Homo sapiens: one gene and its partners. The protein of the gene in region 2 purifies or fractionates together with the protein of the main gene of each other region. This does not show direct contact. Each region holds a gene or a part of one and is shown on either strand. Other genes may lie near its edges. The genes, in order: SDF4, USP12 and THUMPD3.

The links.
Region 1: the proteins of USP12 (region 2) and SDF4 purify together in Homo sapiens (affinity purification with mass spectrometry; one large-scale study listed by BioGRID and IntAct). This does not show direct contact.
Region 3: the proteins of USP12 (region 2) and THUMPD3 purify together in Homo sapiens (co-immunoprecipitation; one large-scale study listed by IntAct). This does not show direct contact.

What each region holds. Positions count from the first base shown.
Region 1 is NC_000001.11:1,221,853-1,225,503, forward strand, and holds part of SDF4 (45 kDa calcium-binding protein isoform 2 precursor), read right to left. Parts: intron 2,117-3,651; coding exon 1,980-2,116; intron 1,506-1,979; coding exon 1,392-1,505; intron 1-1,391. UniProt on the Homo sapiens protein: May regulate calcium-dependent activities in the endoplasmic reticulum lumen or post-ER compartment. Isoform 5 may be involved in the exocytosis of zymogens by pancreatic acini.
Region 2 is NC_000013.11:27,165,280-27,168,930, forward strand, and holds part of USP12 (ubiquitin carboxyl-terminal hydrolase 12), read right to left. Parts: intron 1-3,651. UniProt on the Homo sapiens protein: Deubiquitinating enzyme that plays various roles in the regulation of the immune response and inflammation.
Region 3 is NC_000003.12:9,369,490-9,373,140, forward strand, and holds part of THUMPD3 (tRNA (guanine(6)-N(2))-methyltransferase THUMP3), read left to right. Parts: intron 1-1,570; coding exon 1,571-2,047; intron 2,048-3,651. UniProt on the Homo sapiens protein: Catalytic subunit of the THUMPD3-TRM112 methyltransferase complex, that specifically mediates the S-adenosyl-L-methionine-dependent N(2)-methylation of guanosine nucleotide at position 6 (m2G6) in tRNAs.

The DNA of each region.
Region 1 (3,651 bases), on a different chromosome or scaffold from region 2:
GGTAGGAGGATCGCCTGAGCCCTGGAAGGTACAGCTGCAGGGAGCCGAGACTGCACCACTGCACTGCAGGCTGGGTAGCAGAGTGAGACCGTCTCATGAAAAAAGAAAGAAGAGGTGGTTTGCCTTGAGACTCTGGTGAGGAAATGTGTGTTACTGATAAGTTAAGCAGGCACAAAAAATAAAGGTGTAAGATACACCCAGCCTGCCAGGAGCAGCCCCGTATCACGTGACCAGTCCCGTGGGCGACACGGGCGCCCTGCAGGGCAGCAGAGAACCCACCCCAGGATGCCGGGCAGCGACGGAGCAGGCGACTCTGCACGTTCTCCTCAAAGCCCCAAACCAGACCACGGGCATGACCGGGAAGGGCACACGGAGCCCCAGGGTGGCAGCAACGCCACGGTACCCGCTCAGCTGTGCCTCACAACTGGGCCAGCAGGGGCTTCTGCCTGGACGGCTCTCCCAGACCTGGCCCCGTGCAGGGTGGCCCGGCTCTCCCCTCACCTGGCCTTAGCCCGGGTGCCGGGCCCCACCCGGCCCCACCCTCTTCACGCAGAGGCACCAGCTTGGACCCGCCCAGGGCTGAGGCTGCCCTGCTGGCCAACGGCCACACCCCAGACCCAAGGAAGAGCCTCTCCCTGGGACCTGACCGCTCTCTGGTGACCACCTGACGGCCACACAGATGTCTCCAGCAGACCCAGGCCTCAGGGCCAGGCCCTCAGGCACAGGCTGTGCCCTCTCCCCAGGAAACTCTGCCTCACGTGGCCTTCAGAGTACGGGGCAGGCCCCAACCCAGACTCACAGCCTCAGATTCTCTGCAGGACCTAACTGAGTAACGGCCGTGAAGGTGCCGTGACCAGCAGAGCTGAAAGCTGCCCAGGCACAGCTCACACGCTCCCCACCGGACTCCTGGGCGGCGCCTAGGTCAGCAACGGCTTCACCCACTTCCCTCCTGACAGCCACCACCAACCAGGTTGGGCCATGCTGTTAAGACGAACACGTGTGCACACAGCGGGTGTGAGGGCGCACTCACCTGCATGTACTCACGAGCCTACATGAACAGCTACCTGGATGTACTCACAAGCACACGCACAGCGCACTCGTACACACGACACGCACACACGTACAAGCACATGCACAGTGCACTCGTACACACGACACGCATACACATGTACTCACGAGCACACACACAGCACACGTACACACAACATGCACACACGTACTCACGAGCACGCGCACAGCACACTCGTACACACGGCACGCACACACGTACTCACGAGCACACGCACGGCACACTCATACACGACACACACGGCACACTCATGTACACACAACACACGCGCGCACACACAGGATGCCTGAGACCGGTGGCGGGAGCCTGGCTGAGCACTCACTTTCCTCATCCACTTTGAGTTCCTCGTTGAGCCTGATGGCGTCGGCAACCTCCTTCTCGCTATGGCCTTTACTCGCCAAAAACTTCACCTTATACTCGTCCCAAGACACGTGACCTGGAAGAGCAGATCACACCTGTCAGGGCCTCTGATACTGAGCTGAACTTCCTTCTCAACTGAGATGGGGTCTTGCTCTGCTGCCCAGGCTGGAAGCGGCAGGATGCCAGCGTCTGGAGCCCCAGGGCCCCGGCCAGCACCCCACACCCGTTTCCTCACCTGTGAGGCCAGCCGGCAACGTCTGTGCCTCGGGGCCACCAAGAGGCATAGACACCACCAGATGAAGGCCCCGAAGACATAAGAGGCGCCCTCCATGGGCCACGCCCAGTGCTTGGCACACACACCTCTGTCACCAGGATTCTGGCATCATGAACCCAGCTTCCGTGCACCCCACCACACCTCGGGGTCTCCGGCTGACACTTCCCCACCGCCCGTCCCTCAGACAGGGCCTGTCTGCCCTCCAGGCACCAGGCAAGGCCCATGGCCCTGCCCGCCCCGCCCACCGCCCCACCCACCCCGGCCCAGCCACAGTACCGTCCCCGTCAGGGTCCACGGCGCGGAAGTGTGTCTTGCTCTCCTCCATGGCCTCCTGGAAGTGCTCGGCCGTCTTCTCCATGATCCAGCGCTGCATCTCCTTGGCACTGATCTTCCGGTCAGTGTTCACATCCACCCTGCAAGACAGCAAATGGGCAGGTGGCCGTCAGACTGGGCCCCCAGGACCCCGAACAGCCAGACGGATGCCGCCGGCCCAGGACTCCATGGCTGCGTGAACCTGCCACCAACAGCGACAGGCTCCACCAGGCAACGCGAAAAGCGTCCGGGACGTGGGGCTTGTGGGGTGCCGGGCCACGCCAGAGACACTGGGGAAGGTGGATGCCACGGTCCCCTCCCCGGGGAAACACATGGACCCTCCCCCTCTGTCACACAGAATCACCACCAGACCCCACTCTCCAACCACAGCTTCCAAAAGTCACACTCTTCACGTTTTATTTTATTTTTTGAGATGGAGTCTCACTCTGTCACCCAGGCTGGAGTGTGGTGGCGCAATCTTTGCTCACTGCAACCTCCGCCTCCCGGGTTCAAGCGATTCTACTGCCTCAGCCTCCCGAGTAGCTGGGATTACAGGGGTGCACCACCACGCCTGGCTAATTTTTGTATTTTTAACAGAAATACGGTTTCACCATGTTGGGCAGGCTAGTCTCAAACTCCTGACCTCAAATGATCCACCCACCTCAGCCTCCCAACGTGCTAGGATTACAGGTGTGGCCACTGGGCCCGGCCCATGTTTTATTTTCGATGCTTCAGGTATGGCTACACAAAAACCTTCATATAGGCAGGACGCAGTGGCCACACCTATAATCCCAGCCCTTTGGGAGGCTAAGACAGGTGGATCACTTAAGCCCAGAAGTTCAAGACCAGCTTGGGCAACATAGGGAGACCCCACCTCTACAAAAACAATTACGAAAATTCGCCAGGCGCGGTGGCGTGCACCTGTGGTTTCAGCTACTCAAGAGGCTGAGGTGGGAGGCCTCCCGAACCTGGAATGCGAAGGTTGCAGTGAACTGTGATCACACCACTGCACTCCAGCCTGGGCGGCATACCGAGACCCTGACTCAAAACAAGACAAAACAAAATCCTTCATATAAATTTAAGTTGTGAGATTTAGGAAGAAGACCGTGTGGGGACTTAACATTGTGTGCAAGGATGGAAGAGACCACAGACTTGGGGGATAGGGACACAGACTGGGGACACGGGGCCAGCGCAGGCCAGGTCAGGAGGCCACAGGCCCCAGGACAGGTCACTCCCGTCCCAGCTTCAGAGCTCGGCTTCACCATTATGTCTTTGTGGAAGCCACAGGCTCCTACCCCTGCTGCAGCCGCCCGTGTCCTGAGCTCACCTGTTGGAAACTTAACCCCCAGGGCAACAGCACTGGGAGGCAGGGCTTCCAGAGGTGCGAGGTCTTGAGACCCCGGCTGGTGCGTTTGCCGGAGGCATCCCCGAGAGTAGGGTGCCCTGGCCCCTTGCCTCTATGCTCCGCTCAGGGGCAGCCGCGGCCACGTTATGAGGTGGCAAGCAGGCCCTCGTCAGGCAGGTGTGGCCTCTGGGACCTGGGCCAGGCAAGCTTCGAGGGTGCACACACCGCAGGCACGGCTCAGAAGCACTGGGCAGAGATCCTCATGGAAGAAGGCCAGGCTGCCGCTCACAC
Region 2 (3,651 bases):
AGCTTTCATATTATGAATTAATCCACTCAATTTCAAAATAAATTAGTGCTTTCTCAGGGGTATATACTACTAATAAACTAACGTTTCTTATAATGAAAAGGAACTGACAATTGTATTTCACAAAACAAATTTCCATTTTGGTTAGTATATGTTGAGCTAACAGATTAATTAGTAGTGCCAATGAATACTTTTTACCACAGGGAGGGGAGCAAATCATGTTAAAGGGCAGTAACAGCCAACATGACACAGTGATTACCATGGGCCAGGTACTAGTCAACAACCCTATGAACTAGATGTTATTTTACTCTCACTTTACAGGTACAGAGAAGTAACTTGTCCAAGGTCATACTCATAACTAAAGAAATAAACATGGAACCTCAAAAAAATTCAAATCCCTTAATGGTACTGGCAAAGAAAAAAGTGTCAAAAATTAGCAAATAGCTTTGTGAATTATTAGGCTGTTGGTGACGAAAATGGTGGTATCAGTAACCTCCAGTTTTAAAGAAAGAAAAATGTATTTAGACTGTAAAAACTAGGGAACTAAGTGAAATTCTTGCTTAATTATGTCTGATTCTATGCTTTTTATGTTATCTAAAACATAATTAGAACTCCCAAGATGTTCTAGAAATGGGCTACAGAGCAAAAAAAATAATAATAATTTTTTAAAAAAGAGCTCCTAAAATGATGAAAATGATACCAATAATCATTTATAAACTACTAAAGGATCAGAATTTTAGACCTAGAAGGAGACAAGCATATAAGGAATATCTATTAAAGAGTATCTAGTCCAATCCCTTTATTTCACAGATGAGAAAAATTAACTCGAAGTTTTAAGAAACTTTCCCATATATACACATCTAAATGTCAAAATCTGGACTAGAATTTACCTTCTGGTCCAACTGCTCTTTTCATTATACCATGCTGTCAAATACATAACAAAATACCATATTAAGTTTCTGGAATAGAGCTGCTAAAAGAGAAACCAAAACAAAATTAGATTATTTAAATCTAAAAAGGTTTCTGGAAAGGAATTATACAAAGTATACAAATGCTTAAAAGATACTTCCTGAGACAATAAAAGTTTCAGAAGAGCTAGAATAAATATGAGTTTAAAGGCAGGAAGAAAGGAATTTGGTAAATGACAAAAAGGAGGCAGACTCAGTTTGGGGGGACTTGGTCAAAAGTCTAGAATCAAATAAGGCAACAAGAAATGTGACATCATCTCGCTGCAACTGGCCAACATGGATCATGGTAGGGCAGATAATTAACCTACTTTGAGACCTATTAGCCACTTATTAGCAAAAGGTGGAAAGAGAAAGTCACCAGAAGGTAAGCAAAGCCATATGATATAAAATAAGACCATAATATTTATACACATGCCACATAATTGAATATGGTATTTAAAACTAGAGTTTTCAAGCATATTAAAAATTTCAGATCATAACAAGTCTTATCTTTGTGATAACTAAGTGCCTAAGATTAGAATAAACCACCTCTTATAAAATTCCATTTCTGCTAACTATATCACTTTACCCTCTAATAATCATTAAACATATAACCTGTCAACGCCCTAGTACCCTACCACTATGCTTTATTGGGCTCATCTCACCACCTCATCATTTTATAACATTAAACTCATGTTCATCCTAAAATTGGGCAAATTTTAGGATGGGCATGAATGATGATAATGATAACATGATAATCATTCGTGGGTAAACAGTGTAAAACTATATCTAGGGAATACAACTCAAGTTTTTTAAAAAGTTAAATAAAATATGCTCTGGCCAGCCTGACCAACATGGAGAAACCCCATCTCTACTAAAAATACAAAAATTAGCTGGGCGTGGTGGCACATGCCTGTAATCCCAGCTACTCGGGAGGCTGAGGCAGGGGAATCACTTGAACCTGGGAGGTGGAGGTTGCGGTGAGCCAAGATTGCAGCATTGCACTCCAGCCTGGGCAACAAGAGTGAAACTCCGTCTCAAAAAAAAAATAAAATAAATAAATAAATAACATATCCTCTGGGAGGTAAAAATTGACCTTCCTTTTGCTTTCTTGGAGTTTTTATATTTTCCAGATTTTCTATGAGAATGTATCATTTTTAATGTCCAAAATGTATTTTAGACAAATTCAAAAGATGAGTGGGCTTAAATAAAACTTCTATTAATACTTCTTCTAAATGTTCTCTCTCCACCAAGCTCAAACATTCCTTTGACCAAACATTTATGTAATAGAAGATTCCTTATTTTTGAGGTTTTCTTATTTTTTTTAAAGGCTTAAGAAGCTTAAGTTTTGTTCCCTTCTTAAATTAACACAGCAAAATTAGATAAGTAAAACAATGGCAACTCACATTTGAATGCTCCTATCATAGAAGTACTATTTTACTAATAAAATATTAATTTACAAATAAATATTTTATTAATAAAAGAACTACATCCACCCTATTTCTTGAGAAGGAAAAAGAAATTTCATTATTTAATATAATATTCTTGTTATATGAAGAGGAGACTTTCACACACACACATTCCCAACAACGCATGGGCTCTGAGGTTTGCCCCAGCTTTCCTTTTTTTCAGTAGTAAGGATAAATTGCACTGACCACACATACCCTTACCTGGATCCCAGTGAGACTGAGCAGTAAGAAAAGGCAAACATTTTCCATGTATGTCCTTTCTAATTTATGTTTTTAAAAATCGTGTTATTAAAACAGAGCAAACAAAAAAGAAAAGACAGCCAGTTTCACCTGTGCCTTTCTTCAGCAAGTAAAGTTTACCATGCTCAGGGTGCTGTGCTAGGCACAGGCTTTCTCAGAAGAAAAGCCCGTGGGACTCTCCTAGCACCTACCTTTACCAGCTTTGGCCTCATTACCACCATGTTCTAATGGATCTAATCTCATGCCCTTGTAACCGAGGGTGGGCAAGCAGCCAGGCCAGTGCCACCCCATGATCTAACTCTACCCACCTCCTGCACCAACAACTTCTCCGTTGTCTGGTCCCCCTCCCAACAACGCCTTCCTAACCATGACTCCTACAACCCAAACAGGAAGAGACAATAATGATCAGAGGCAGAGCTAACATTTATGGAGCTAACAGTAAGTAGTGCCAGCTCCAAAGCAGGGGCTGTCCTGACCACTACTGCATGCCCATGACGGACCACCCGGATTAGCCACCTCAACTGCAAAACACAGCCTCTCTACATGTATTCTGTCACTTTTCCCGTTATTTCACACTTATTAAGTATAATATTAAATATCAGGTAGGCAGGTACTCCGTGCCAGGCCCTGAAGTCTGAAACTACTTCAAAGGCAAAATAAACACTATGTGATACTGAAAATGTATTATTTCATAGACAAATTAAAAACAGGTATTTCAAGAGGTACCCTTGAAAATGTACTCACTGCAATCTAAACATAATCACTCATTTGGTTCAGGCTATAATACTAACTTATGAAAAACAAGTTTTACTAATTTTCACATGTAAGCACAACACTAGTGATCTAAAATAAGACACAGCTGAAGAGAATTGTTTTTAACAGTTACTTAACCCAATTAAGGTATTGCAGATTTGCCCAGGTACGTTATTTTGACAAATGAAAAAATTATGTACACTTCAGTACTTATAGAATAAAATTTCAACTCATCCTAAATGTTT
Region 3 (3,651 bases), on a different chromosome or scaffold from region 2:
GCAAAGGTGTCACTATCTCAGCTACCTGTGTGGCATCATGTTGGCACTTCAAAAAAATTTTAGGTTTTGGATTTTGGACTTTGAGATTAGGAATGTTCAACCTATATGTTGGAGATCCTGGCAGTATCATTGCTGGAATTGGCTGCGTATACTCCATTGTTTGGCTGTATAATAATTTAACCAGTCCCATTTTAGGGCATGAGGGTTTTTCACATTCTTTTGCTATTACAGTGGTGCAACAAATACACTATGTAAATTCTTGTACATATTCAAACTGAGTGTCATCTTTGTGTTTATCCCATTGATACTTATTGATAATGACAACTGTTTAGTCTTAGTTTTGTCATGCTCATACTTTTTGTTTTTTCTTAATTTGAAAAATCTTTACATTATGTCTTTACTTTTTTCATATGCCTGTGTTTTCTAATAGTTTGGAAGGTTTATGTGTGTGTGTTCTAGCTGTTACCTTTATAACTACAATTTGATATTATCTACCTTATCTACCATATATACACGGTATTTTTTGAATCCCTGCTAAAAGCAATGATGAAATTGGCATATTTATACTTTTTTCCTTTATTTTTCAGTTATTTTTCTTAGTGTTCACCCTTAAACTTTTAAATATACTTACATTTTATTTATCAGCTTTAACTTCTATCCTTTGACCTCTGGGTGTAAGAGATGAGGGTATCAGTATGCCCATTTACATGCCAGTTTGTAACATTTACCTTCTGCTTTATAATCACAATCCCTACACTTGTTTTCATTTTAGTGATATAATTAAATAGATTATAGGCACATTATTTGTCCTTTTGTTATAATTTGTATCTGTTGAATGGCATGAGTTCAGAAATGTTTGTCTTTCACCTTTATATTTGGCTGATAGTTTGGGTATAAAATTTGGAGTTAGGCTTTCTTTCCTTAAGAATATTGTAGTCAGTGTTCATTCTCTTTTGTAAAAGATTTATTTTTTTAGACAAGATCTTGCTCTGTTGTCTAAGCTGGAGTGCATTGGCGTGATCATAGCTCATTGGAGCCTTGACCTCCCAGGCTCAAGCAGTCCTCCCATCTCAGCTTCCTGAGTAGCTGGGACTACAGGCACGTGCCACCATGCCCAGTTAATTTTTGTATTTTTTTGTGGAGACAGAGTTTTGCCATGTTGCCCAGTCTGGTCTCAAACTCCTAAGTTCAAGTGATCCACTTGCTTCAGCTTCCTAAAGTGCTGGGATTACAGGCATGAGCCACCATATCCAGCCCAGACTTTTTTTCTTGTCATTATTTCCCAAACAATACAGTATAACAACTATTTCCATAGCATTTACATTGTATCAGGTATCATAGGTAAGATAGAGATGATTTAAGTTACTCTTGAGAGGATGTGTGTAGGTCATATGTAGACACTATACCATTTTATATGAGGGACTTTTGAGCATCTTTGGGTTTTGGTGTCTTTGGCGGTCCTGGAACCAGTGTCCCCCACGGATACCAACTGTCCATAAGCAAAGTAGAGGTTTATTTGTTTGATTATAGTGGTGAGAAATGAATGAATTTCTTTCTCTGTCCTTTACAGGAAGAAGTTCTAAAGGATTTTGAAGACTTGGCTGGAAAACTCCCATGGTCAAACCCCTTAAAAGTGTGGAAAATTAATGCCAGTTTTAAAAAGAAAAAAGCAAAGCGCAAAAAGATAAATCAGAATTCAAGTAAAGAGAAGATTAATAATGGACAAGAAGTCAAAATCGATCAGAGAAATGTTAAAAAAGAGTTCACTAGCCATGCTTTAGATTCTCATATCTTAGATTATTATGAAAATCCAGCCATCAAAGAGGATGTATCAACATTAATAGGTGATGATTTGGCATCTTGCAAAGATGAGACTGATGAAAGCTCAAAAGAAGAAACTGAGCCTCAAGTGCTGAAGTTTAGAGTCACATGCAACAGGGCAGGAGAGAAACATTGCTTTACCTCAAATGAGGCTGCAAGAGATTTTGGGGGTGCTGTTCAAGATTATTTTAAGTGGAAGGCCGACATGACCAACTTTGATGTGGAGGTAGGTATAGGCTCTGACTGTGGTGATTGAAGAATGCTGTCACAGATTTGTAGAATTTCCAGACTAACCCAATGTTATGCACAATTAAACTGAGGAAATAGTAGGGTGTGGTTAAGAAGAGCATAGGCTATGGAGACAGATTTAGATCCAAATTTTAACTCCACAACTGTATAACTTTGGACTAGATAGTCTCTGAGCCTCTGTTTCAAATGGAGCCAATAATATTATGTACCTTTAAGGTTATCCTGAAGGATAAATGAGGTACATTTAAAATATTTGGTGCAATACCTTGCATACACTAAGTGCTCCATAGATGGAAGCCATCAAGGTTGAGTTGTCTGTTTTCTTTTTCTTTTTCGAGACAGAGTCTTGCTCTGTCACCCAGGCTAGAGTGCAGTGGTACGATCTCAGCTCACTGCAGCCTCCACCTTCCTGGTTCAAGTGATTCTTGTGCTCAGCCTCCCAAGTAGCTGGGGCTACAGGCACATGCCACCACACCTGGCTAATTTTTGTATTTTTTAATAGACATGGGGTTTCACCCTGTTGGCCAGGCTGGTCTCAAACTCCTGTAGTGATCTGCCTGTCTTGGCCTCCCAAAGTGCTGGGATTATAGCTGCACCTGGCCTGATTTCTAATAGACTACTCTTTTACTATATTATATGGACTTTCATATTATAAAATTCAACCAGAATTAAAATAGTTATTTTGTTTTTGTGTGTCTTGGTTGCAGAGCTTTGCTACTGAAAAAATAAAATAAGGCTGGGCGCAGTGGCTCACGCCTGTAATCCCAGCACTTTGGGAGGGAGGCCGAGGCAGGTGGATCACTTGAGGTCAGGAATTTGAGACCAGCGTGGCCAATATGGTGAAACCCTGTCTCTACTAAAAATACAAAAATTGGCCCGTCATGATGGCACACTCCTGTGGTCCCAGCTACTGGGGAGGCTGAGGCAGGAGAATCACTTGAACCAGGGAGGTGGAGGTTGCAGTGAGCCAAGATCATGCCACTGCACTTCAGCGTGGGTGACAGAGCAAGACTCCATCTCCAAAAAAAAAAAAAGTGCATTTTTTAAACAAACCCTGACCTTCTCAAACCAGGACATCATTGCTAATACTCATCCTAGAGTCAGCTCTCCTCTTTCTTAAATTCTGCTAGATTTCCAAAGCCAGGTACCTCATTTTAGTATATTTACTTTCCTTGGTCTTAATCCTCTTTTATCTGGGTGATTGACATGTGAACCATAGGAACTAAAGTATTTAAGTCTCTGACACCTTAAAACATCTCTAGCAGCTGATATATTTACCAAAGAGTCAATTTCCGTTGCTTTTGGGACACTTGAATCTGGGGCAAGTCACTGATTCTAACTTTTTTGTGCATGTCAAATCAGGAGTCTAATTCCCCATTCCTTTTTTTCCTCATACACTGCCTTGCAAATGAATACGTGGCTCACACCTGTAATTCCAGTACTTTGGGAGGCCTTGGCAGGCAGATCGCTTGAGCCCAAGAATTTGAGACCAGCCTGGGCAAAATAGTGAGACCCTGTCTCCACTAAAAATAAAATAAATATTTTAAAAAATAAAATGAATAGGTTAACCAGAACAGTGAT